Linked DNA regions of Homo sapiens: region 1 is linked to region 2. Evidence: fine-mapped QTL for protein levels in blood plasma. A gene starts in region 2. The other region holds a variant in brackets. All regions are shown on one strand. Distances are between the middles of the regions.

Region 1 (14,733 bases), 15 kb before region 2:
CTGCTGGATATCTATCCAAAGGAATTGAAGTCAGTATGCTGACGAGATGCCTGCACCCCCATGTTCATTGCAGCACTATTCACAATAGCCAAGACAGGAATCAATCTACAGTCCATTCATCTGTCCATCAACAGATGAATGGATTTTTTAAATGTGGTGTCTATATGCACAATGGCTAAAAAAGGAGGTTATTGGGAAGCCAAGGTGGGCAGGTCACCTGAGGTCAGGAGTTCAAGACCAGCCTGCCCAATGTAACAAAGCCCTGTCTCTACTAAAAATACAAAAATTAGCCAGGCGTGGTGGCAAGTGTCTGTAATCCCAGCTACGCGGGAGGCTGAGGCAGGAGAATCGCTTGAACCCAGGTGGTGGCGGTTGCAGTGAGCCGGGATCAAGCCACTGCACTCCAGCCTGGGCAACAGAGAGAGAGTCCATCTCAAAAAAAAAAAGGAAGAAAGAAAAAGGAGGTTAATCCTGCCATTGGTGACAGCATGGATAAACCTGGAGGACATTATGCTAAGTGAAATAAGGCAGGCACAGAAGACAAATACCGTATGATCTCACTCATATGTGGAATCTAAAGAAGTTGAACTCATCAAAGTAGAGAGTGGAACGGTGGTTACCAGAAGCTGGAGGAGGGGGTGGAGGGGGAAAGGGGAGAAAGGGGAGACATCGATCAGAGGGTGCAAAGTTTCAGTTAAACAGGAGAAATAAACTCTAGTGATCTGTTGCACAGCATGGTGACTATAATAAATACTAGTGCATTGTATATTTCAAAATTGCTAAGCGTAGATTTTAAATGTGTTCATCACAAAAAAATAAGTATGTGAGGTGATGAATTTGTTAATTAGCCCAGTTTAATCATTCCACATTGTAAACACATATCAAAACATCACATTGTACCCTATGTATGTATATAATTGTTATATGTCAATTAAAAATACAATTTTTTGGCCAGGTGCGGTGGCTCACGCCTGTAATCCCAGCACTTTGGGGGGCCGAGGCGGGCGGATCACCTGAGGTCTGAAGTTCAAGACCAGCCTGACCAACATGGTGAAACCTCATCTCTACTAAAAATACAAAATTAGTTGGGTGTGGTGGCACATGCCTGTAATGCTAGCTACTCGGGAGGCTGAGGCAGGAGAATCGTTTGAACCCGGGAGGCAGAGGTTGCAGTGACTTATGATTGATCACGCCATTGCACTCCAGCCCGGGCAACAAGAGCAAAACTAAGTTTAAAAAAAAAAAAATACAATTTTTAAAATAAATCTTTTTTTTTTTTTAAAGAAAGAAAGAGAGGCGGGCACGGTGGCTCAAGCCTGTAATCCCAGCACTTTTGGAAGCCAGAATGGGCAGATCACTTGAGCCCGAGAGTTTGAGATCAGCCTGGGAAATATAGTGAGACCTATCTCTACAAAAAGAGTTTAAAAATTACCCAGGCATGGCCCAGCTACTCAGGGGGCTGAGGTGGGAGGATCACTTGAGCCGAGGAGGTAGAGGCTGCAGTGAGCTGTGATTGCTCCTGCACTCCAGTCTTTGTGACAGAGCAAGACCCAGTCTCAAAAAAGAAAAAAAGAGAAGGCTCACATTGTGGATTATTTTCAAAGCATTTTTCCAGGTATCAACTCCTCGAACCCTCATAACAGCCTTCCTCTTTAAGAGGCGAGGAAACTGAGGCTCAGTGGGGCAAAGCAGCTCACTGAAGATCACCTTACCTGGTAAACACAGGATCCAGGATTCACACCCAGGTGTGTGCAACACCCGGTGTCTTTTCTTCTGTGCTGTATCACCTACTCACAGGTGTGAGCACCTAGGGAACAGGCTGCAAGGAGCAACATGGATAGTGCCTACTGTGTGGTCTTGAACAAGTCCCCTTCCCTCTCTGGGCAAAGAGGTTGCTGGTTTGGGATCCACAGCCCTGGACCCTGTGTTCAGTCCTGTCGGCTGTGTGCATTGTTCCAGGTGATGGGTGTTCCATGCCTACCACTCACTTCTGACCAAATAGCATCAATAATTTAAGCTCTCTTTCTTTCATAACCTAAGAAAATTGGTCCCCTGGCAAGACATGAAAAATAATTTCATGCTCTGTTATCTCCCCTCTCAAGATCGCCCCTGACAAATTGTCTCTTTATTGTCTGTTGCTCTAGCATCAGCTCACATTTGGGCTCCCATTTTTTATGGTTGCCAGCCTTACTCCTGGCTCTAACTGGGGTGGCTCCTAAAATGATCACCACCAAATTTCAATTTCCTTCCTTCCTTCCTTCTTTCCCTCCTTCCTCTCTCTCTCCCTCCCTTCCTTTCCTCCCTCATTCCTTCCTCCCTTTTTCCCTCCCTCCTTCCTCCACTCCTTCCTTCCTTCCTTCCTGCAGCAAGTATGGCCCGCTTTGCCCAAGGACCTGAGGCTTTCCTATAAGAAACTCTATAGTTGTTAATACTAAAGTGTGAAGGGCTTTTTTTTTTTTTTCTCCTGAGATGGAGCCTTGCTCTGTCACCCAGGCTGGAGTGTAGTGGCACCATCTCGGCTCACTGTAACCTCTGCCTCCCAGGTTCAAGCGATTCTCCTGCCTTAGCCTCCCGAGGAGCTGGGATTACAGGTACACACCACCACACCTGGCTAATTTTCGTATTTTTAGTAGAGTCGGGGTTTCACCATGTTGATCAGGCTGATCTCAAACTCCTGACCTCGTGTTCCGCCTGCCTCGGCCTCCCAAAGTGCTGGGATTACAGGCACGAGCCACCACACCCAGCCCCTTGTTTAACTCTTTAAAGGGAGGACATGAACCCAGCAACTTATTGTTTATACATTTTATTTGTGCCCATTATCTCTTTCATCCACCCCCCAAAACCTTGCACAACCTACGGTGGGCTCAATGGTCCTGCAGGCTGGGTGGTCTCAGGCAAGTTGCTTGAACTCTCAGAGCCTCTGAGCCTCACGTCTCTGCTTTAAATAGACAATAATTGCATAAAGAAGTTACTGTGAGGTTTTTTTGTTTTTTTGTTTTTTGGTTTTTTTTGAGATGGAGTCTCGCTCTGTCCCCCAGGCTGGAGTGCAGTGGTGCAATCTCGGCTCATTGCAAGCTCCACCTCCAGGCTTCATGCCATTCTCCTGCCTCAGCCTCCCGAGTAGCTGGGACTACAGGTGCCCGCCACCACACCCGGCTAATTTTTTTGTATTTTTAGTAGAGACGGGGTTTCACCGTGTTAGCCAGGATGGTCTCGATCTCCTGACCTCGTGATCCACCCGCGTCGGCCTCCCAAAGTGCTGGGATTACAGGCGTGAGCCACCAGGCCCGGCCCTGTGAGGTTTAAATTATATCACATGTGAAAGGGATAAACACAATATGTATCATCGATATTATTATCATCATTATTCTGAGAAAGGTATGCTTGGGTAAAGGGTTTTGGGTGGAGATAAGGGAGGAGGTCAAAGCAAAGGGACCGAGAAATGTATAATAATACTAATAACAATATTAAGAATGATACTAACAATTTCCATCAACCTTTACTGAGAGCTTACCAAGTTCTTTGTGTGTACCCTGGGCACAGGCATATATATAATATATCATTTAACTTTTTGCAAGCAAGGAGATGAGAATTTCTCCATTAAAAGATGAGGAAACTGGGGTTACATGCTGGTAAACCCAGGATGCAAACCCAAACCCATGATGGCCTCTTCTGGAGGCTGGTGCCAACTCAGTCTTCCTGTCAAAGTCAAACAGTGGCCTCTCTGTGGTAGGTGCAGCAGAGCCCTCTACATCCAGTGCCTTCTAGGGCCTCAGGGGCTCTGAGTGAGGAAACTTCTAGCTGGAAGATGGTAGCCAGGCCCAGCCCTCATTCTGGGCCTCAGAGTCCACAGAGATTGACTTCATGGGCCTCTCTAAATTGTCCTCACCCCTATGTCTTCCTAATCCCATTTCCCTAGGACTGACCATGGAACCCCTTCCTGGACAGTACCCCTGCCCCTACAGCAACACTTACAACTTCCACAGTCCATTTCATAAAGCTCGTTTGGAAACTAATTCATACTAGGCTGTGAGTGGCTATCCTAGCTAACTCTAGCATTTCCTACCTTATGTTCCACAGGCCACTCATAATGCAAGGTGCTCCACAGAAGGGAAAGAACAAGTTCATAATTGTTCTGTGGTCAAATAAATTTGGAAAACTCTGAATATTCTATTCTCCCTTCCAGAGATTCACAATACATGTTAAACTATTGTAGGCACTGAGAAGTCCTGCAGTGTGGACACCAACAATACCCAAAACTAAAGCACATGATTTTTTTTTTCAAAGAACAATGTTACAACATCTGTGTAACAGTCTGAAAAATCCTGACTGAGCAGCCATGGAGGTATAGGGGAAATATCTGTATCCCTGGACAATTATATAAATTCCCCAAGGCAAGGGATTTTATCTTTGTTCCCTGTTAGATCCTGGAACCTGTAACAGTGTTTGGTACATAGCAGACATTTGATACATGTTTAATGAATGAATGAACGAATGAATGAACAAGTCTGTGTCTGAATCCTGGCTTTGCCTTTAACTTGCTGTATGGCCTTGATCAAGTCCCCACACTTCCCTGGGTTTCCATTTCCCTACGTGTTAAAAAGGGATGAAGGCCAGGTGTGGTGGCTCATGCCTGTAATCCTAACAATTTGGGAGGGTGAAGCAGGCGGATTGCTTGAGCCAAGGTGTGCGAGACCAGCCTGGGCAACATGGCAAAACCCAGTCTCTGCAAAAAACAAAAAACCTGGGCATGGTGTCATAGGCCTATAGTTTAGTCCCAGCTGCTTGGGAGGCTGAGGTGGGAGGACTGCTGGAGCCCGGGAGGCAGAGGTTGCAGTGAGCCGAGATTGTGCCACTGCACTCCAGCCTGGGTGACAGAGTGAGATGCTGTCTCTCACACACACACACACACACACACACACGATGAGATAAAATTATGCATTCTCAATATTGTTAAGAATGTTGTTGAAGCCCCAACCCCCAGTACTTCAGTAGGACCCCCAAGAGGTGAAAATTGATCTTGGGAAGCAAAAAAACCATCTTACTCTTTATGTATAAAACACAGATATATATACAGAGTTTGTACAGACGTATATTACATACTTTATATTTGTGATATTAAAACTTCATGGGGTGGGGTCAGGTGTGGTGGCTCACACCTGTAATCCCAGCACTTTGGGAAGCCAGGGTGGGAAGATCACTTGAGCCCAGGAGTTCAAGACCAGCCTGGGCAAAATGATGAGACCCCATCTCTAAAAACAAAACTTCATGGGGGGAGGTGTAGGAAAATAACATCTAAAAAGACTCTCTAGGGGGATGACAAGGAAAGACAAAATGTTGGGAAATGCTAGACTTGATGATCTAGAAGCGTCCTTGTTCTAGATCCAGATCTAGAAGGTCTGACAGTCTATGAATCTGGCTCTACGGGAGAGTGTTGATGGGAAATAGCAGAGGGAAGAGTGTTCTAGGAAGAGGGAACAGCACAAGCTGAAAACCTCAGATGGGAATGAGCCTGGGTTATGGGCTGGACTGTGTGCCCCTCTAGCAGCTGAAATAGCTCAGATGGGAGAGTGTTTGACCGAACTATGTCCCCCTAAAATTCATATGTTGAAGTCCCAAACCCCCAGTACCTCGGAATGTGACTGTATTTGAAGGTAAAGTGTTGAAAGAGGTGATGAAGTTTAAATGAGACCATTAGGGCGGGGCCCTAATCCAACAGGACTGGTGTCCTGTTGGAGGAAGAGGCAGCTGGGATGCATGTGCATAGCGACAAGACCATGTGAAGATTCAGGAAGAGGCTGGGCAAGGTGGCTCACAACTGTAATCCCAGCACTTTGGGAGGCGAAGGCAGGCAGATCACCTGAAGTCAGGAGTTCAAGATCAGCCTGGCCAACATGGCAAAACCCTGTCTCTACTAAAAACACAAAAATTAGCCAGGCATGGTGGCACACGCCTGTAATTCTAGCTACTCGAGAGGCTGAAGCAGGAGAAACTCTTGAACCTGGGAGGCGGAGACTGCAGCGAGCCAAGATCTCACCACTGCACTCCAGCCTGGGCAACAGAGTGAGACTCTGTCTTAATAATAATAATAATAATAATAATAATAACAATAATAATAATAAAAGAAGATGCAGGGAGAAAGGGGCCATCTACTAGCCATGGAGAGAGGTCTCAGGAAAAACCAGCCTTGCCGACACCTCTATCTTGGGATCCAGTCTCAAGAACTATGAGAAATATTTCTGTGGTTTAAGTCACCCAGGCTGTGGTATTGTGTTATAGCAACTGGAGCAGACTCATACACTTGCCCTCTTCTTCTTCTTCTTTGTTTTTTTAAATACAGAGACAGGGTCTTGCTATGTTGCCCAGGCTGGTCTCAAACTCCTGGGCTCAAGTGATTCTCCCACCTCAGCCTCCCAAAGTGCTGGGATTACAAGCATGAGCCACGGCACCTGACTTTTTGTTGTTGTTGTTCTTTCGGGGTGCTTTTTTTTTTTTTTTTTTTTTGATACAGTGTCTCTCCTCGCCCAGGCTGGAATGCAGTGGCACGATCACGGCTCACTTCAGCCTCAACCTCCCAGGCTTAAGTGATCCTCCCACCTCAGCCTCCCAAGTAGCTAGGGCCACAGGTGCACGCCACCAGACCTGGCTAACTTTTTAAAATTTTTTATGTAGAGATGGGATCTCAGTATGTTGCCCAGGCTGGTCTTGAACTCCTGGGCTCAAAGGATCCTACCACCTTGGCCTCCCAAAATGTTGGGATTACAGATGTTAGCCACCTGGCATCTTTAAAGAACAACCAATACAGGGACATGAGATCAAAATAGGTTGTGGGGAGAGTGGGGAGATGCAGATGATGACAAGCTTCACAGGACTGGGAATAATACTGGGTTTTTTTATTGTTGTTTTCTTGGCATGGTGGGGAGCATGGGAGGATTTTAAGCAGGAGTGTGACAAGATCTGCCTTACGTTTCTAGCAGGACCACTCTGAATGCTGGGCAGAGAGCAGATCACTCATGGGCAAAGACAAAAGCAGAGGGACTATGAGAAGGAGAGAGAAGAGGGTGGCTGGGACCAGAATGGCAGCAGTGGGCATGATGAGTGGGTTGGATTCTAATACATATTAAGAGTAGAGCTAGTGGCTGGGTGCCGTGGCTCATGCCTATAATCTCAGCACTTTGGGAGGCCGAGGCAGGCAAATCACTTGAGGTCAGGAGTTCGAGACCAGCCTGGTCAACATGGTGAAACCCTGTCTCTACAAAAAACGCAAAAATTAGCTGGGTGTGATGCACATGCCTGTAATCCTAGCTACTTGGGGGGCTGAGGCAGGAGAATCACTTGAA[C/T]CTGGGAGGCAGAGGTTGCAGTGAGCTGAGATCGCGCCACTGCACTCCAGCCTGGGGACAAAGCAAGATGCCATCTAAAAAAAAAAAAAAAGAGTAGAGCTAGTAGGAATTGCCAATGGATTAGAATGTGAGGTGTGAGAGAAAGAGAAGGGTTATGGATCATTCCAGACATTTAGCCTGAACAACTTGAAAAGTGTAGCTTCAGTTATGTTTGGTCCGGTTTTGTTTGAGATGTGTATTAGACGTTCACATCAAGGTGTCAAGCAGTGGTCAGATGTTCTGGGACGGTCTGAGTAGAGGTAGGCACAAGAAGGGTCCGCCCCCCAACCCCATGCTTCCCGCCCCCACAGCCCCTATCATAGAATATTTGCAAACAGCTCTGTACTTTTCCGCATTCATTCCCCATTAAACTGAGTGAGAGAAAAAACTTTAGGTGTCATGTTTACCATTGTATGTCCCAGGCAAATGATCTGTTGAATAAATGGTACGATACAATGAGGAGTTAAAATTTACTGAGGCGCAAATGTTCCTAAACATTCCCCTCCCCTTCCTGAGCCAGATAATGTTATCTTTTCCAGCAGAATGTTCTGGTCCCCACCCCTTCCTGTCCCTATCAGACTGATCAGGGACATTTGTGGGCAGAGGAAGATGGGCCAAGAGAGCCTGAAACAAGAGCTAGAGGGCTCATGAGAGAGGTTTAGACAACCTATAAAATGCAGAACCAGGAGAAAGTAAGGAGGGGAGGAGAAAAAGAGAGATAGAAGAGACCAATCCTGCCACTTAGTCTTCAAGTGAAACAGGGGTTTCTTTGTTTTATAGGCTTTCTTTGGAGCATGGAGGGTGTTAAATGAGAAACTCCAGGGTAGTGTGTGTGAGAGAGAGAATTGGGAAGAGAGAAAAAAGGTATGAGAAGTGTCAGGCCTCTGAGCCCAAGCCATCGCATCCCCTGTGACTTGCACGTATACATCCAGATGGCCTGAAGTAACTGAAGATCCACAAAAGAAGTAAAAACAGCCTTAACTGATGACATTCCACCATTGTGATTTGTTCCTGCCCCACCCTAACTGATCAATGTACTTTGTAATCTCCCCCACCCTTAAGAAGGTACTTTGTAGTCTCCCCCACCCTTAAGAAGGTTCTTTGTAATTCTCCCCACCCTTGAGAAAGTACTTTGTGAGATCCACCCCTGCCCACCAGAGAACAACCCCCTTTGACTGTAATTTTCCATTACCTTCCCAAATCCTATAAAATGGCCCCACCCCTATCTCCCTTCGCTGACTCTCTTTTTGGACTCAGCCCGCCTGCACCCAGGTGAAATAAACAGCCATATTGCTCACACAAAGCCTGTTTGGTGGTCTCTTCACACGGACGCGCGTGAAAAGAAGTTTTGCTAGGGGAGAGAACTGACTCTCCATGCGTGGCTTTGAAAACCACAAGCTAGGAACAATTTATCAAGAAGACATAGCAATCATAAATATATGTACACCTAACAACAGAGCATCACAATTCCTGAAGGAAAAAAAAAATCAGGAAGCAAAAATAGACAAAACTAAGGTAAGAAACAGATAAATCCAAATAATCAATGATTCTTTCTATGTAATTCACTAAAATTGATTTTTTAAAAACAAGCTGCGGTGAACTATGATTGTGCCATTATACTCCTGCCTGGGTGACAGAATGAGATCCTGTCTCAAAAAAAAAAAAAAAAATCAGCAAGGGTATAGAAAAATCGCATCAACACTGTTAACAAATTTGATCTGACATTTACAGAACACTGTACCCAATAACTGCAGAATATAAATAGTTTTCAAGTGTACTACCAAGCCTTTCAAAGATAGACCATGTGGCCAGGAGCAGTGGCTCAGGCCTGTAATCCTGGCACTTTGGTAGGCTGAGGCAGGCAGATGTCCTGAGCTCAGGAGTTCAAGACAAGCTTGGGCAACATGGCGAACGCTGTCACTACCAAATACAAAAATTACCAGGTGTGGTGGCACACACCTGTAATCTCAGCTGCTTGTGGGGCTAAGGCAGAATTGCTTGAACCTGGGAGGTCGAGGCTGCAGTGAGACAAGATTGCACCACTGCACTCCAGCCTGGGTGACGAGTGAAACCTTGACTCATTAAAAACAAAACAAACAAACAAACAAAAAATAAAATTAAAATACAAAAACCATGTGCTGGGCCATAAAATAAGTCTTAATTCATTGCAGAAGACTTAAATCTTAAGGAATATGTTCTCCGACCACATTGGTCTTTAAAAACACACCAATAACAATAAACACCTAGAAAATCCTAAAGTATTTGGAATTTAAATAACATCCCTTTAAATAGCCCATAGGTCAAAAGAAAAAAAAAAAACCACAAGTGAAACTAGAAAATATCAAACTGAATGACAATGAAAACACATCAAATTAATATTTGTGGGAAGCAGCTAAAGCCATACTTGGAGGGAAATTTATAGCTAAATGACCGTACTGGGTGGGGGAAAGAGAGGCCTAAAATTAATGACCCAGAAGTCTGCCTTAAAAAAAAGCTAGAAAAACTAAGAACAAAGTAGGCCTGAAGTAAATAGAAGAAAGGAAATACTGAAGTTAAGAGTAAAAATCAGTGGAATAATGATAGAGAAAACAAGGCTAAAAACCGGTTCTTTGAAAAGATTAATAAAATTGAAAAGCACAACTAATACCAGACTTTCTCTTTTTTATTCGTTTGAGTTTTTTGTGCTGACTGTGCACGGACCAGTTCACATGGGTGCTGGGTTCACACAGGTTACAGGGGGAGGCAGAAGGAGAGAACACACCACAGCCTCCAGAGCGCCTCCATTGCAGATAAGCACGCATGCGCTCCTCCGTGCCGCACCCCTGTTCACTGCTGGATCCTGCGGATGCTCTGCACCTGGAAGGTCGGGGCATGAGAGCCCCACTCCCGGAAATGTTTGTAGTCACCGGAATGGTGATCGCATTCCAGCACATACTGAAATCCTCGGTAGCCCGGAAACTGGGAGCAAACCCAGCTGGAAAAGAGAAAAGGCAGACAGTTACTCTACAGAGACACCAGCATGGTGATCAACACAGGGGCAAAGGGATCTATGCACACGCACACAATTCCAGCCATCCTGGCCTTTCTTCAGTGCTCACAATGTGCCATGCTCTCTCCCCTACCACAGGGCCTTTGATCATGCCATTCCCTTTGCCAGAAGCACCATCCCAGCCTTTCTTTTCCTAGACAAGTTGTATTTGTCCTTCATGGCTCATCTTAATTATGAGGGCAATCTGACTCGTTCCCCAAATCAGGCCACAGTCCCTTATTATACCTTTGTAGCACTCATGTAATTCGATAGTTTTCAAATTATTTGTAAAATATCAGCCTCCCCTGCCAGCAGGCAAGCTCCTGAGTGTAGGAACGTGTATGTTTTGTTCATCGTTATCACCACCTGCATAAATATATAAAAGTCTAGCAAGGAAGAAGGGGTTCCTAAATATTTGCTGAATAAGTGAACAAGTGAAGGAATGGGAAGTCTTGTTCTTTCCCCTTTCTCCCTCCTTCCTTATCCAGAGGCACTTCCAAGAAAAAAAGCTATCATTTCAATTCATTGATTTTTTTTTTTTTTTTTTTTTTGAGACAGAGTCTCACTCTGTTGCCCAGACTGGAGTGCCGTGGCATGACCTCGGCTCACTGCAACCTCTGCCTCCTGGGTTCAAGTAATTCTGCCTCATCCGAGTGGCTGGGACTAGAGGCATAGCCACGACACCCAGCTAATTTTTTGTATTTTTAGTAGAGACGGGCTTTCACCATGTTGGCCAGGCTGGTCTCGAACTCCTGACCTCAGGTGATCCGCCCACCTCAGCCTCCCAAAGGGCTGGGATTACAGGCGTGAGCCACCGTGTCTGGCCCAACTCATTGATTTCTACTCTGTTCAGGACAAGGATTGGTGTCTGGTTTTCCAAGCCTCCATTTCCCTTTCTGTAAAAGAGGAAGTGAACTCAAGAATCACAAGGGGTCCCTCTTACTCTAAAACAACATGATTCTTTGGTGGTTCCTGAGAAAACTAAAGCCAAAAAAAGAAAAAAAAAAAAGATGAAAAACCCTACCTCCCATCTTTGCCCCCTGCCTACCAGGAGCCAAGGGGCACCTCAGAAAGTGGTTCTGATGTCCTCCCTAAATAAGAATCTCACACCTTAGCCTTCACCTGCCACCTCCTGGGTGGAAAGGAAAGGGCCAGTCAGTGCTGAGTTTGAAGCTGGATTGTTACCTACCTGCTGATGGACTTTGAGCAGGTTGCTGGAGCCACACCTGTGTTTTATGGCTAGGGGCATTCATTCTCCCCTCTTCTAGCCAAAGAGCCTGTGGCCTCTCACTCTCAGCCAAGGTGAGAAAATGAGGCTGAATCTAGCAATGGACCACATGACCAAACCTAGCCAATCAGAACACCCCATTCCTATGGGCATGATGATTGGTTCAGAGTTGAGCACAGGACCCAGCTGGACCAATGAGCACCTTTCTTGGAACCTTTAATAGAATCACTGAGCCTGGACACTGTCTTTCCCTAGGGCTGGATGTAACGATGAAGCCGCCACCTTTGCCTTCACACAGGAAGAGCTTGTCTAAGAATATAGTCACACAGAGGCAGGCAGGGCAACAGGTTGGGGGTTGTGGGGGGAGAGAGATACCTGCTGTAGTACCTGGATCCAGCTATGCTTGAAGCTAATTACAGGGGCTGATAAATATCTTCTGGGCTCAAACCAGTTTGATCTGGGTTTCAGTCCCTCAAATTCTGCCTGATACCTCCCTGTGCCTCAGTGTTCTCCTCTGGAATGTGGGCATCAGAGCACAAAAGTCCCCAGCACACAGTTTTCACAGGAGGTACACCTACCCCTCCCAGTAGCCCCTCCCCTGCCAGGTAGAGCCTTGAATACACTTACGCCCCAGAGTGGACGTGGAAGGACCCTACTTCATTGCCTTCCCATCCCATGGCCTGGAGGGAAGGATAGTCATCGCTCAGCTCTCCTTTCTTGCCCAGGAAGTTCTCTTGCTCGAAGATTGTCAGCCTCGAGTCACGGTGGTTCTACAGGAACAGGGAACACAGTCAGACCAGCAGGCTCCCAGTTGGAAACCCAGGAGCCTCTCCTGGCCTCCACACTCCCTGCCCTTGTCTCCCAAATCAGCCTTCCTTGCAAACCTTTTGGAAGGGCAATAAGGCAACAGGTACCAGAAACCTTGCCATTTGCCCTTCCAGAAATTTCCACAAAGAAAATAATCATGGAATAAATAGGCTGCAAGAATGTTCATCATAACAGTTTTTTCAAAAACAAACAAACAAAAAAAGGAGTCAACTTTTATGTCCAAAATTGGGGATCCAGTGGTAAGCTGAGGCATTACACTGTGGTTAAGAAAAAGGGTGTAGAGGCCCGGCGCGGTGGCTCACGCCTATAATCCCAGCATTTTGGGAGGCCGAGGAGGGTGGATCACCTGAGGTCAGGAGTTCAAGACCAGCCCGACGAACATGGTGAAACCCTGTCTCTACTAAATACAAAAAATTAGCCAAGCGTGGTGGCACATGCCTGTAATCTCAGCTACTTGGGAGACTGAGGCAGGAGAATCGCTTGAACCTGGGAGGCAGAGGTTGCAGTGAGCCGAGATTGTGGCATTGCACTCCAGCCTGGACAACAAAAGCAAAAACTCCATCAAAAGAAAGAAAGAAAGAAAGAGAGAGAGAGAAGGAAGGAAGGAAGGAGAGAGAGAGAAAGAGAAAGAAAGAAAGAGAAAAAGAAAGAAAAAGAAAGACAGAGAATGAAAGAAGGAAAGAAAGAAAGAAAAGGAAAGAAAGAGAAAGAAAGAAAGAAAGAAAGAAAGAAAGAAAGAAAAGGAAAGAAAGAGAAAGAAAGAAAGAAAGAAAAAGAAAGAAGGAAAGAAAGAAAGAAAGAAAAAGAAAGAAAGAAAGAAAGAAAGAAAGAAAGAAAGAAAGAAAGAAAGAAAGAAAGAAAGAAAGAAAGGAGGGAGGGAGGGAGGGAGGGAGGGGAAAGGAAAAGAAAAGAAAAGAAAAAAGAAGGAAAGAAAGGAGGTGTAGAGATATCATCTCAAATCCTTCCTGCTAGGAGGCAGCTGCCACTTACCAACTGACTGAGGTTAGACAGGATTTCTGAGCCTCTGTTCCTGTATCTATAAAATGAAACTAACCCTACCCATTTTTCAGGGTTCTTTTGAGGACTAAATGAAATCAGGAGTTGCAAACTGCTGGGAATGAGGGATTGTTTCTGTTGCAGCCCGCCACGGGTCCCTATATTAGCACAATATCTAGACTGTTTGCAGAATAAATGAACAAATGGACTTATTCACAAAACAGAATACTAGGGAGCTATGAAAAACGATGGAAGTGAGATTTAATCACCTGGACTGATGATTGCGACACATTTGCTCAGTGAGAAAAGCTAGTTTCCAAGCCTTAGATTCATTATGATTCCAATTTTATGACAAAATTATGTGTGCAATATAGATAAGATATATAGATTATACAGATATAGATGTAGATGTTGATTTGGATGTGTATATACATAGAGACACAAATGTATAGGTTGAACATCCCTAACCTAAAAATCCGAAATCCAAAATGCTCCAAAATCTAAAACTTTTTGAGTGACGACATGACACTCAAAGAATGCTCACTGCAGTATTTCAGATTTTGGATTTTTGGATTCAGGCTGCTCAACTGTAAGTATTACAAATATTGCAAAATCTGGGGAAAATATTCAAAATCCAAAACACTTCTGGTCCCAAGCATTTCAGGTAAGGGATACTCAACCCTGACCATAGCAGGATTTTCCTTCAGAATTTTGGATGGTAAATATGGTGACTTATGTCATTTTAAATCAATAAGAATTGAAAAATAAAACACACTTTGTTGTTTTTGTGTTTGTTTGTTTGTTTTTGTTTTTTTGTTTTGTTTTGTTTTGAGACAGAGTCTTGCTCTGGCGCCCAGGCTGGAATGCAGTGGTGCGATCTTGGCTCACTGCAACCTCTGTCTCCCGGGTTCAAGTGATTCTCCTGCCTCAGCCTCCTGAGTAGCTGGGACTACAGGCATGTGCCACCACACTCAACTAATTTTTTTGTATTTTCAGTAGAGACAGGGTTTCACCATGTTGGCCAAGCTGATCTTGAACTCCTGGCCTCAAGTGATCTACCCGCCTTGGCCTCCCAAAGTGCTGGGATTACAGGTGTGAGCCACCATGCCCAGCCTAAAATACACCTTTCTGAGCCTCAATGTTTTCATTGGTGAGATGGGAATAATAATGCCCACCTCCACCCACACTCCAAAAACAGCAGTAAAATGTAAGATCAGGAGCACTGATGCTGAATTAGGAGCAAGAAATGAAACCTTTCCTCTCCACTTGGCCCT
Region 2 (12,122 bases):
TGCACAAATCAGAAGCTAAAAGAGTATTTACTAAAGCATGAGATGTGCAAAAATCACCCAAGATGACCTCAGGTGGCACTCACAGGTGTAGCATTAAGTGACTCCAAATCTCCTATCTACTTTCCAAACTTCTACAACCTTCTATCCAATATGGTAGCTACTGGCCACATCTCCTGTCTATCTACTTTCCAACTTTCTAGAACCTTCTATCCAATATGGTAGCTACTGGCCACATTGCCTTTCTAGCTACTTTCCAACCTTCTAGAACCTTCTATCCAATATGGAAGCTACTGGCCACATCTCCTTTCGATCTACTTTCCAAACTTCTAGAACTTTTATCCAGTATGGTAGCTACTGGCCACACCTCCTTTCTATTTACTTTCCTGCCTTCTAGAAACTTCTATCCAATATGGTAGCTACTGGCCACATCTTTCCAACTACTTTCCAAACTTCTAGAGCCTTCTATCCAATATGGTAGCTACTGGCCACATCTCCTTTCTACCTGCTTTCCAACCTTCTAGAACCTTCTATCTAATATGGTAGCCACTGGCCATATGTAGCTAATTAAATTTAAACTTAAATAAATTAAGATTAAACAAGATTCAGTTCTCTACTCATGCTGGCTACCTTTCAAATCCTCAATGGTCACATCTGGCCAGTGGCTCTGAAATGGATGGTGTAGATGTAGAACATCTCCATCATTGCAGACAGGTCCACTGAATGACACTGGTCTAGAAAGTCTTGGTGTGTTATTAGTGTGTCCTTAACACCTCTCTGTGTCTCACTAATCTCTCTCTCTCACTCTCTTTTTTGTTTTTTAATTTTTTTTTTTTTTACAAAAAATGATCAGGCCACATGCTTAGCAGCAAGACTATTTAGCTAAAAATTAATAGCATTAAAACATTATGTTTATTTTTACAGTTACCTTCTACTTTAGGCGGGTGATGTTGGCTTTCAATTTACGGCTGGGAGGGACATTTTTAGATCCAACACTGGATTCTAAGGATCTCCTGCAGAACTGCCTCATCCAGTGGGCAGGGTCTGTGTAAATGGCACCCTCCTACTGTTGGGCAGTGCGCAACCTGCATAATCTTACATGGCAGTCCTGCACACTCCTCAGTACTTCAGGAGGGCACAACAGTAAGAGCCTAGGGAGAGGGGACCTAGAATATCTAAAAGTCCTAGCACCCGTCTCTAGGTCCCTTCCTGTCCACCCTCTACCCCAACTCAGTGTCCCCCTAGACTCACGCTCCACTCAGCACTTTCAAAGATCGCACAGTCTCGAAGCCAAGCTCCAGCACGCTGGGGCACTCGGCCGTGAACTCGTGCCGCCGGCCCTGGAAGCCGTCCTCATCCCACACCACCATCTGTGCCAGGAAAAAAAAAAGGTGGAGATCCGCATCAGAGTCCCGTGAAGGGTGAGAGGTTGGGGGCTCGCCCCAGGATCTGGCAGGTAAAGCAGGGATTGCAAACTCAGATTCCTCCAGGAGCCAGGAAGGCAAGAGCAGTGATAAATGTGAGACACTAGACAGCACAGGTGCCAGGTAAATGGGTGGCCTCTTCCCAGTGCCACCAATGGTTGCCAAGTGGGAATGCAGGCCAGACCTTCCAATTTCTCAAGACAATCACTAGATCTGGACTTTTATGTGGTTCTTCCAGGCTTTTAAAGGCTGATGATAAATCCAAAAGCTTTATAAAACAAACAAACACACACAGAGATGGTCAAAGAAATCATGCCCAAAGACTGCAACCTCTGCCAAAGAGTGTAACAGGTCAACTTTGGGAACCAGAAGACCCAAATTCACATTCAACCTCCCTGTATGTGACATACAAGTCCCTTCTCAACTCTGAGCCTTGATTGCACCTCTGTGAAATAGGCATTTATAATGCCCCCCTCCTAGGATTCATGGGGACCTGAACCCTCCCCATACCCCCTGAACACCCCCTCCCCATGCCTCTTCCTACCTTCCAGGGTCCCGCTGACTTTGTGCATTGCAGGGTCATTGTGGCCCCTTCCTGCAGAAGAGAAGAACATTATAATCTTCCACCCTGACCCTCTGCTCTCCTCTTTATGCAGATGGCTGGCTTGGACCTGGTCAGGATCCACATAGGGAGTCCAGGAGTGACTGGGCTAGGGGCAATGCATGGCTTTGGCCTGTCCCTCTCCTGTCCTTTCCATCTGTCACCAATGCCATCTTCCATCCTATCCCCATCTCAAAACTCACCCTTGCTGGGTCTCATTGACTCTGAGCCCCACTCTGTATTCTCTTATCTGCTTGTTATGGGAAAATTTTTGTGGCTGCTGGTGGGTGGGTGCATCACCCCAGCGAGTGCTGAAATGCTCAGCATAAGAGAGCCCTTCCAAAGACAGCACCTAGCTCAAAGAGGTAGCTCTGATGGTGGAAATTTAGGCAATAGGGCTACAGGAATAATTTGTTTTTAAATGAGGGAAGCAGGTGCTGGTCTTGATGGTTGGGGCTCATCCTTGGTTAGGATGAGGATGGCATTCAGGATGACACAGTGACATCCCTAGGACTGGGGACCTGGGTTCCTCGCCTCCCAGAATGCTCACTCAGAACTCTGATCCCACCCCTCCTCCAAACCTGGGACTTACCGAGATAGGCCCAGGGAACATGTCAGATCTGAGACCAGCCGAGGTCGGGCTCTTATAGGCAGGGAGGGAAGAGGGGCCCCTGGGAGACAAAGCCCCGACTCAGCAACTGGGCCACAGAAACAAAAGCCAGCCCTGGCTGAAGAGCCAATGGCAAGCCGTCAGCAGCTCTGGCTTTAGCAGGGAGGGAAAGGACCAGATCACCACCCCCAGGGATCAGCCACGAAGAAGGAGAGAGGTGGAATATTGGCCCTCATCAGCCCCACAAGGTTCCTGACTAGAGCAGGAGAATGAGCACTAGATGAGGAGTCCAGAAGCATCCTTCCTAGCTATGTGAGCTCCAGCGAGTCATTTCCCCTCAATTTCTGCCTATAAAATGGGGCAGAAACAAACCATATCACAGAGTTGTTGTGAGGTTACATAACATGCCTGGTACAGAGTAAACATTCAGGAAATGCCTATTCCTTTCCTTCTCTCTTTCCCCTTTCTCTTCCAGTTGAAGCAATCCAGATAGGCTTGCCGTTAGAGGAGGCATTTGAACTAGACTCTGAAGGATGAGGAAGATATGTACAGAGTGAGATGGAAGGAGAGGCATTCTAAGAAAAAGTTCAGAGGTGGGAACTTGGGGCACATGTACAAGAAAGAGCTGGTAGCCCAATTGGCCTGGAGCTCAGGGGACCTGAAGGGAAGTGAGGCAGGAGAAGAGGGCTAGGCCAGGGCCTGCTGGGTCCACAAAGCCTGAAGATGAATCCGGATGGCACTGTGGGCAGCATAGAGGAGCTGTTAGTTGCAAACATGCTTTGCAAACTGTGGCACACTTGCCAAATATCCAGGACTTGTACAATTTGCTGTGTGCCTCTTGTCCCGAAACCCTGCCCTCTGAATTGGCGTATGAGGGACCTAAGAGGTCCCTCATACATACATACTTGTGTGTAAAATGGGTGTAACAAGCATAGGAAAACAGCATGACTGGAAACCAGATCATCTGAGATGAAATCCAGCCCTGCTTCTTTCTTACCATCCGTGTGACCTGGAGGACACCTGAGTCCTGCTCATGACCTGTAAAGTGGCCACACCAGTTTCCTTTTAAGAGGGTGAAATGCAGCTCTATCAAACGCATGACTTTAGGCTGGGCGCAATGGCTCACGCCTGTAATCTCAGCACTTTGGGAGGCCGAGGTGGGTGGATCACCTGAGGTCAGGAGTTCAAGACCAGGCTGGCCAACATGGTGAAACCCCGTCTCTACTAAAAACACAAAAATTAGCCGGGAGTAGCGCGGGCGCCTGTAATCCCAGCTACTAGGGAGGCTGAGGCAGGAGAATTGCTTGAACCTGGAGGCAGGGGTTTCAGTGAGCCAAGATCATGCCATTTCTCTTGACCCTGGGTGACAGAGCAAGACCCCGTCTCAAAAAAAAAAAAAAAAAAAAAAAAAAGGAATGCATGACTTTGATGAAGGGTTGGCATGAAAATGAAAGGTTAACAATGCACCCTCTACAGCCAGACTGCCTGGGTTTGCATCCCACTGGTGCTGGCTGGGTAACTTTTAAGCATGTTACTTACGCACTCTGAGCCTCAGTTTACTTGTGTGTAAAATGGGTGTAACAAGGTAAGTTGGGATTAGTCTAAGAAACAGGGGGATTGTGAGGATAAATGTGAATAGCACATGAACAGCAGCTGGAATTGCTCCTGCAACATAAAAAATATTGTGGTATTTCCATCATCTTCATCATCACCATTGCTAATAAGAAAGATGATTATTATTAATTGTTGATCAAAAAGCAGGGGTGCATAGTTTTTAAGAGCCTGGGTTCATGAGTAAAGAAGATGTGAGTTCCAATTTTATCTTACATTTCCATTTTTATGAGAAAGTGGCTGAGAGAGAGGAAGGAAAGGGAGTTGCTTCAGTTTCCTTATCCGTAATTGGGGTTAATCCCAGAGACTTCATCCTTATACTGAGGAGTACAGGACAATGCAAAAAAAAAAAAAGAAAAGAAAAAAAGAAAAGAAAATAAATTGGCTCCATAAGACAGGGCAAAAAAGAAAAAGATATAATGAAGGATACAATAATAATAATAAATGCTCAGAGTGGAGCCACCAACATGGTGGGCCATCCCCCTTCTCTGCCCCCACCCTCTGGCAGACAGCCCATTCCTGGGGCTTTAGGGGGGGCACGGAACTGCCCCAGATGACCTGGCTTTGAAGCCTAGACTGGTGGGTGGGCCCTCACCACAGGCGTCTTGGCCCCAGTTCCAGTGGCTACCCCATCTTGCAGTTCCTGCCCACACCCCACCCACCAAGTCTTGGCCCAGGATGAAAGGCCAAGGAGAGGCTAGGAAGCGAGGGGGTGCTGGGTGGTGGAGGGACAGAGGCAAAGCTGGCTCCAGGCCAGGGAGAGTTCAAGACAGAGCTGGGCTCCACGGGGAGCCTAGAACCCCGAAAAAGAAGAGACAGGAGCCTATCCAGATGCCCCCGCAATATACCCTGCCTGGGACTGGGGAGCCGACTGCAGGTGACCTAGCTGAGCAGCTCCCCAGGCTCCTTCTGACCCCAGCTGTACTGTGAGTTCCCGCCATGTGACTATGTTGAAGTCATTTGTTCCACCTGGGCCTCGGTTTCTCCATTTGTGAAATGGGAGGATTGGGCCCTGTGATTTCTGGCGTCTGTTCCTCCGTCCTGAGGCTTGATCACCCCAACTTGACCTCTGTCTCTCCGTCTCTCGCTCCTTCACTGTCCATGTCCCCTGTGCCTCTCTGTGTCTCTGTCTCCACCTCTCTCTTTGTCTGTTACTTCTATCTGCCTCCTTACTTCTCTCTCCTTGCCTTGGTTTCCCTATCTCCTCCGTACCCTACCTTCTGTTCCGATCCATTGGAACCACCATTGAGTCACCAGTTATTGACTGAGAACCCATGATGTGCCAAGCTCTACCTAGCCAGGCCCAGCTAGGTGCTGGGGCCAGTGGTGAACAAGATGTGGTGGGCATCTGGGGCTTGCCAGGGCAGGAGGCTCTGGGACAGGCAGTCATATTTCTGGCCACCAGCACTGTCCTCCAGGTCAGATAACGTGGCCTGGGTAGAGGCGGGGAACTGGGGTGGCGAGAGGGATCACTGTCGATAGGTCAGGAAAGGATGGGGCCCAATGTGGGGAAAAGAAAAAGACCCAGGTCTCCGATATCCAACCCAGCTGAGCACAGTGCGACTCTCCCATTCCCACCCCAACCTACAAAGAGGAAGTCAGGCCAGGGGGCCTCAGGCCAAGGTCAAGGCTGGACAGCAGGAGAAGAAAGCACACAGGCCCAGAGCTGGCTGGCCTGGGCTGGCTCTGACCTCTCTGTGCCTTCACTTTCCTCTTCTGTGAAATGGGCATAATGAAAGTACCAAATAAGGCAGATTGTCCCGGGGACTGACCGAGATAACACGGGTTCGGCACACAGTAAGCACTCCGTAAAAAAGGCTGTCCATATCAAACCCACATCTGCCTTTACAAAACGCTTCTGTGCTCATTGTCACCTTCTTTTCTATATGGCATCCAACAGGGACACGTGCCCACCTTATAATTGCAGACACAGAGGCCCCCCTAGGGGTAGAGACCTACCAAAAGCCACACAGCGCGCAGTGGCTGAGTCAGGATTCAAACTCTGGTCTCCTGCCTCCCAGGGTCTCCCCTTTTCCCTGCCCCATGTTGGCAGCCAGCAGGGACCCTTTTGGGGGCCCATCCCTGGCTGGGGTTGTTGAGAAAGGAGTCAGGGTAGGGTTGGAAGGTGAAGCTGCTGTGGCCAGGGTTTCTGCTGTGTGTGCTGGTCTCACAAAGGAAAGTGCTGCTGTCTGCAGTGATCCAGGCGAGGTCAGGGCCCCAGTCCCCCACTCCCTGCCCAGGCCTGCTGAGCCAGCTTCCCCTTTGTGCCACAGACTATAGGGCCTGATGTCTGCCAGACTATAAAATGGGGGGTCGGACTCTAGTCACCCATAGCACCTGCCCGCCTGCCTGTCCTCCAGCAGGAAGTAGCAAGTCCCCAGGTAAGAGGGAACCCACAGCCCAGCTGAGAGCTGAAGGGGAGGGGAAGAGAAAAGGGAGACAGAGAGAGGGAGGCAGAGATAGCAGTGCCATGAGAGTCAGAGAGCAGGGCCATGGAGATAAAGACGGAAGTGGAGAGAGGAAGAAAGGGAGGGAGAGGGAGAGGGGAGAGAGTGAGAAAAGACAGAAATAGAGAGAGAAGTAAATATAATTAAAAAGGACAGATAGAGAGATAAGCAAAGATACAATGAGGGAGAGATAGTGGGGGAGAGAGGAACAGAGAGGGAGAGAAACAGACAGGCAGATAGGCAGAAAGAGGGAGAGAAGTAAGAAACAGATAGAGAGGCAAAGACAGGGAAGAGAGGAGGAACAGAGGGAGAGGGTGAAGCAGGGAGAGAGAGAGAATGAGAATATCTCCAGGAAGGCATGAGTCCAGCTGCCAGCCCTGGGGGAGTGTTTAAAGCCACAGATGTGGTCCAGATGTCTGGCCTCACCCCTGGTGAACAGGGGGCACCCCAGAATATGCACAGCCTTCCTGGAGGAGGCTGGGGGAGGGATGTGCTTATCCCAACTAGCTCCGCCTTACAGAATGTGTTCGGGAATCAGCTTGACCAGAGGGTCTTAATCTGTGCTAGCAGGGGGTCCTCAAATCCCTTAACATTGTCTCCAAAGTTAAAGAGAGCATTATTTTTGTCCGGGGACAAAGTTGAGGTATTCATCAAACATTCAAAGGAGTCCACGACCCCAAAGCAACAAGGAACCACTGGAATTGACCAAAGCCCTCTCCACCCAAAGCCTACCCAGCCCCAGTCCTCATTTTCAGAACCCTCCACATGCAGTAAATACATCCTCTTGGGTCCTCCCATAAGCCTCAGTCCCCGGCCTGTATTTGCACCCATACACCAACCCCTCAGAGGAAGCAGACGGGGAAAGGAGCTGGGAGCATGCATTCATTCATTCTCTGAACAAATGTTAATTGGGCATCTCCTATGTGCCAGGTGCAGAGCAAGTGTTAGGGATGGACGGTGAATAAATCAGATTAAGCAAATGGCAGAATACTTTAAAAGCCCAGTTGCTGGCTCCATTTCCTTGAGTTGAAATCAGAGCCCTACCACTTAGTAGCTGTTTGGGCCTGAGCTGGGCCCCTTCCTTCTCCAGCCCCCTGCTGCTCAGAGGGGATCATGATAGCAGCTACTCCATCGGGTGAGGTTCATGGTCAGATGGGTTAATTAATGTATGTCACAGTGCCTGGCACACCTTAAGTACTCCCAAATGGGACTTCTTGTTATTAGTCTAGGGAGGCAAATTGGAGTTGCACAAGCAAATCAGTGTGATAAGCAGTGTGGAAAATTGCAGGGGGCTAAGGAAGGACCTAGCGGGGTAATGGAGGGTGGAACAGCTAGTGGAGGGAACCGCATGGTCAAAAGCCTGGAGGAAGGATATATGTGGGATGAGTGGCCCCCAGACGGGAAGGTCTTGGCTGGGAAGTAGGGATGAAAGAAAAACTTCCAGGCTTAACCGTTTCAGAAGGAGATAGAGAGGAAACGAGCTCCAAGGAGGCTGAAAGCACAGGATGTGGGGCTATGAGGGCAGGAGGCAGTTTGGGGGTGTCATCCCTGAAGGCCAGAGTTTCTTTACAGACTTTTGCAGGCGGGAACCATGTCTCAGGCTGCAAAGGCCTCGGCCTCGGCCACAGTGGCGGTGAACCCAGGGCCTGACACCAAGGGGAAGGGGGCCCCACCTGCAGGAACATCCCCTAGTCCCGGCACTACCCTGGCCCCAACAACCGTGCCTATTACCAGCGCCAAGGCGGCGGAACTGCCTCCTGGGAACTACAGGGTAAGGACCTGGGGGTGCAGTGGCTGGGTGCCATGCCTTCTTTCCTTCCTTCCCTCCTCCTCCTTCTTCTCCTCCTCCTCTTCCTCTTTCACCTCTTACTCCTCCGCACCTCTTTCTCCTCCTTTTTCTTGGCTTATTTTCTCTCCTTTCTATTTACTCTCCCTTTTCTTCTTCTCCACCTCCCCAGACTCTTATCCTCTGTCCCTATTCTCTTTTTCCCTCACCTTGGCCTCCTCCTCCCTCCTCCTTCTGGGACACAAGTGTGGCCCAGCCAATCTGGGAGCCCATAAAATAGCCAGGGGTTCTGACACACTTGGAGAAAGTGGGGCCGGGCGCAGTGGCTCATGCCTGTAATCCCAGCACTTTGGGAGGCCGAGGCAGGTGGATCACCTGAGGTCAGGAGTTCGAGACCAGCCTGGCCAACATGGTGAAACCCTGTCTCTACTAAAAATACAAAAATTAGCCAGGCGTAGTGGTGGGCGCCTGTAATCCCAGCTACTTGGGAGGCTGAGGCAGGAGAATCACTTGAACCCAGGAGGCGGAGGTTGCAGTGAGCTGAGATCATGCCACTGCACTCCAGCCTGGGCAACAGAGGGAGACTCCATCAAAAAAAAAAAGAAAAGAATAGAAAGAAAAAGGGGACCTATAGTTGAGTTGTGCAATAACAACAACCAAACCATACCGCTTCACAGCTGAAGGGACACCTGGCAATCAGGCTACACCTGCACACGCACATGCTTAGAGTTTATCGAAAGCAAGAAAAAAAAAGAAGAAAAGGAAGTGGGCTGGCTTAGCAGCAGGGAACCAGCTGTCCTTGGAGGCTCACTGGGGCAGCAGGATGGCCTCAGACCCTCAAAATTGCTCGAGGTGGTCTGGGCTGAAAGGCATCCTGTGGAGCAAGGTGTCCAGTCCCCTGGGATTTGGTTTGGTGTGGTTTCAACCTCAGGTCACAGAAGTAGGCCATTTTGCAACCCCTAGTTCATGACACGCTCTCATGTGGTCAGTGCGTGGCAGGTTTTTATTTATGTACCTATTTAATCATTAGTTTTATTTAATTTCTAATAATGCAATATGCACCTACAAACCCACCACCCATATAAAAGCCAGGACTTGGTTAAAAACTTTCTACCTAACTCTAAGGTGTCTCCCTTGAGTCCATCATTTTCCTCCCCAACTCCAGGAAATACTGTCCTATCCTCAACCTGTGTCTGTAATCTGCTTGCTTGCTTTTGTATACAATTTTATGCATTATTCCTTTAAAAATGTATACACACATACACATGTATATTTATTTACTTGTTTTATTTATTCATTTATTTTGAGACCGAATTATGAGACGGGTTTTGCCATATTATCCAGGCTGGTCTCGAACTCCTAGCCTCCGCCTCCCCAAGTGCTGGAATTATAGGTGTGAGCCACCGCAACTGGCCGATTTACTTGTTTTTAATTTATTGAAATATGCAATGTGATTATTCTGGGCTTTTCTTTGTACTTTTCACTTACTATGAGATCCCTAATATCCATCCATATTGTTGCGCATGACTGCCGGCCATTCATTCTGGCTGCTGCCTGATATTTCAGAGCGTGACCATCTCTTTCCTGCTAAGCACGATTTCAGTGGTTGCTAGCTTTGCTCTCGTGAACAGCATGGCTTGGACGTTCTTATCCCTGTCTCCTGGTATCGGGGAACCTGCCCCGATATTCACATAGATTCTTTTCTATTTTTCCTAAGCGTCGGCCAGCTTGAGAAATAAAGGGACAGAGTACAAAAGAGAAAAATTGTAAAGCTGGGCGTCCGGGGGAGACATCACATGTCAGTAGGTTCCGTGATGCCCCACAAGCTGCAAAAACCAGCAAGTTTTTATTAGGGAGTTTCAAAAGGGGAGGGAGTGTGAGAATAGGTGTGGGTCACAGACATCAAGTACTTTACAAGGTAATAGAATATCACAGGGCAAGTGGAGGCAGGGAGAGATCACAGGATCACAGGACCGGGGCAAAATTAAAATTGCTAATGAAGTTTTGGGCACCATTGTCATTGATAACATCTTATCAGGAGACAGGGTTTTGAGATCAACCGGTCTGGCCAAAATTTATTAGGCAGGAATTTCCTCTTCCTAATAAGCCTGGGAGAGCTATGGGAGACTGGAGTCTATCTCATCTCTGCAGCGTCGACCATAAGAGACGACCACGCCCAGGGGGGCCAGTTTAGAGACCTAACCCCAGGTGCGCATTCTCTTTCTCAGGGATGTTCCATGCTGAGAAAAAGAATTCAGCGATATTTCTCCCATTTGCTTTTGAAAGAAGAGAAATATGGCTCTGTTCTGCCCGGCTCACTGGCGGTCAGAGTTTAAGGTTATCTCTCTTATTCCCTGAACAATTGCTGTTATCCTGTTCTTTTTTAAGGTGCCCACATTTCATATTGCTCAAACACACATGCTGTACAATTTGTGCAGTTAATGCAATTATCACACGGTCCTGAGGCGACATACATCCTCCTCAGCTGACAGGATTAAGAGATTAAAGTAAAGACAGGCATAGGAAAGCACAAGGGTATTGATTGGGGAAGTGATAAGTGTCCATGAAATCTTTACAATTTATGTTTACAGATTGCAGTAAAGACAGGCATAAGAAATTACAAAAGTATTAATTTGGGGAACTAATAAATGTCCATGAAATCTTCACAATCCACGTTCTTCTGCCATGGCTTCAGCCAGTTCCTCCGTTTGGGGTCCCTGACTTCCCGCAACATCCCGGGGCACACATACAGGAGTTTCTCTTGGGCAACCAAAGGTAGAAGTGGAAGTGCTGGGTCATGGTTATATGAACCTCCCCTCCTCTTACAGCTGGGGAAACTGAGGCTCAAAGAAGGCAGAAAATTGTGCCTTGGTCCATGTGAATGGCAACGTTGTCCCAACTTGGAACAGCAAGTGGACAAGGAACCAAACATGAGGCTTAGTGAGGAGAGAAGATTAGCTCAAGTTTTCCCCTATGTTGTGGAGGGTTGGATTTGCAAGTGTCTCCTGAGCATCAGCTCTGTGGCAGGTACTGGGGCTGGGGCTGGAGATACAGAAATTGATCAACCTCAGGCCCTGCCCTGGAGGAGTCCTTGGTCTTTGGAGGGGCTGGGTAATGGGAGAGAGGGAGTGCAGAGAGAGAGGGAGACCCCAAAGCAAAACAGCAGTGACTGTGTGGTGGGTTAGTTGTGCTGCTAATGGGGAGAGGACAGTGGGGGATGCTCAACCAAGGCCGATGGAGGAAGGGGCAATCAGAGAAGGCTTCCTGGAGAAGGTGGCACCTGAGCCTAAAACAGAATAACGAGCTGGAATGCGTATTAGGGAACTTCAGTTAGGCAGTGGGAGCTCCAAGCTGGATATGTGTGGTGGAGAAGGCATTCCAGGCAGGAGGAATAGCACAAAGAAAGGCCTGAAAGGGAGGTTCATAAGTTCCTAATGATGGCGCAGATCTTAGCTTCAGAATTAGGGCATGAGGCCAGGTGCAATGGCTCATGCCTGTAATCCCAACACTTTGGGAAGCCAAGGCAGGCCAATCATTTGAGCTCAGGAATTCGAGACCAGCCTGAGCAACATGGCAAAATCCTGTCTCTACAAAAAATAGCCAGGCATGGTGGTGGGTGCCTGTAATCTCAACTACTCGGAGGCTG

Alleles and levels. Alleles are on the strand shown, and positions count from the first base shown. The strength of an association depends on the size of the effect and on how common the allele is.
With allele T in place of C in region 1, the plasma level of the protein whose gene starts at base 6,574 in region 2 is lower (weak association).

The links. A credible set is the group of variants that fine-mapping cannot tell apart. PIP is the posterior inclusion probability: the model's chance that the variant is causal. The UK Biobank Pharma Proteomics Project read protein levels with antibody pairs (Olink). The fine-mapping took linkage between variants from a reference panel, not from the people measured, so its PIPs are less certain.
Region 1: its variant is the best candidate, but not a certain one, in a credible set for the plasma level of the CRYBB1 protein (UK Biobank, PIP 0.73).

The regions. Positions count from the first base shown.
Region 1 is chr22:26,625,960-26,640,692 of GRCh38, reverse strand. It overlaps CRYBA4 (crystallin beta A4), which reads right to left. Exons shown (of 6, transcript NM_001886.3): 5 at 12,263-12,405; 6 at 10,024-10,353. The coding sequence ends at 10,206. Among named protein-coding and RNA genes, the nearest start is that of CRYBA4, 11 kb to the right of the region's middle. RefSeq lists a cis regulatory region at 7,467-8,217. The variant C/T (reference allele first, on the strand shown) is at 7,341.
Region 2 is chr22:26,612,479-26,624,600 of GRCh38, reverse strand. CRYBB1 (crystallin beta B1) reads left to right here and starts at 6,574. Exons shown (of 6, transcript NM_001887.4): 1 at 6,574-6,624; 2 at 8,263-8,461. The coding sequence starts at 8,282. It overlaps CRYBA4 (crystallin beta A4), which reads right to left and starts at 2,638. Exons shown (of 6, transcript NM_001886.3): 1 at 2,615-2,638; 2 at 1,966-2,016; 3 at 1,249-1,367. The coding sequence starts at 2,004. RefSeq lists enhancers at 5,489-6,164, 6,843-7,520, 10,231-10,909.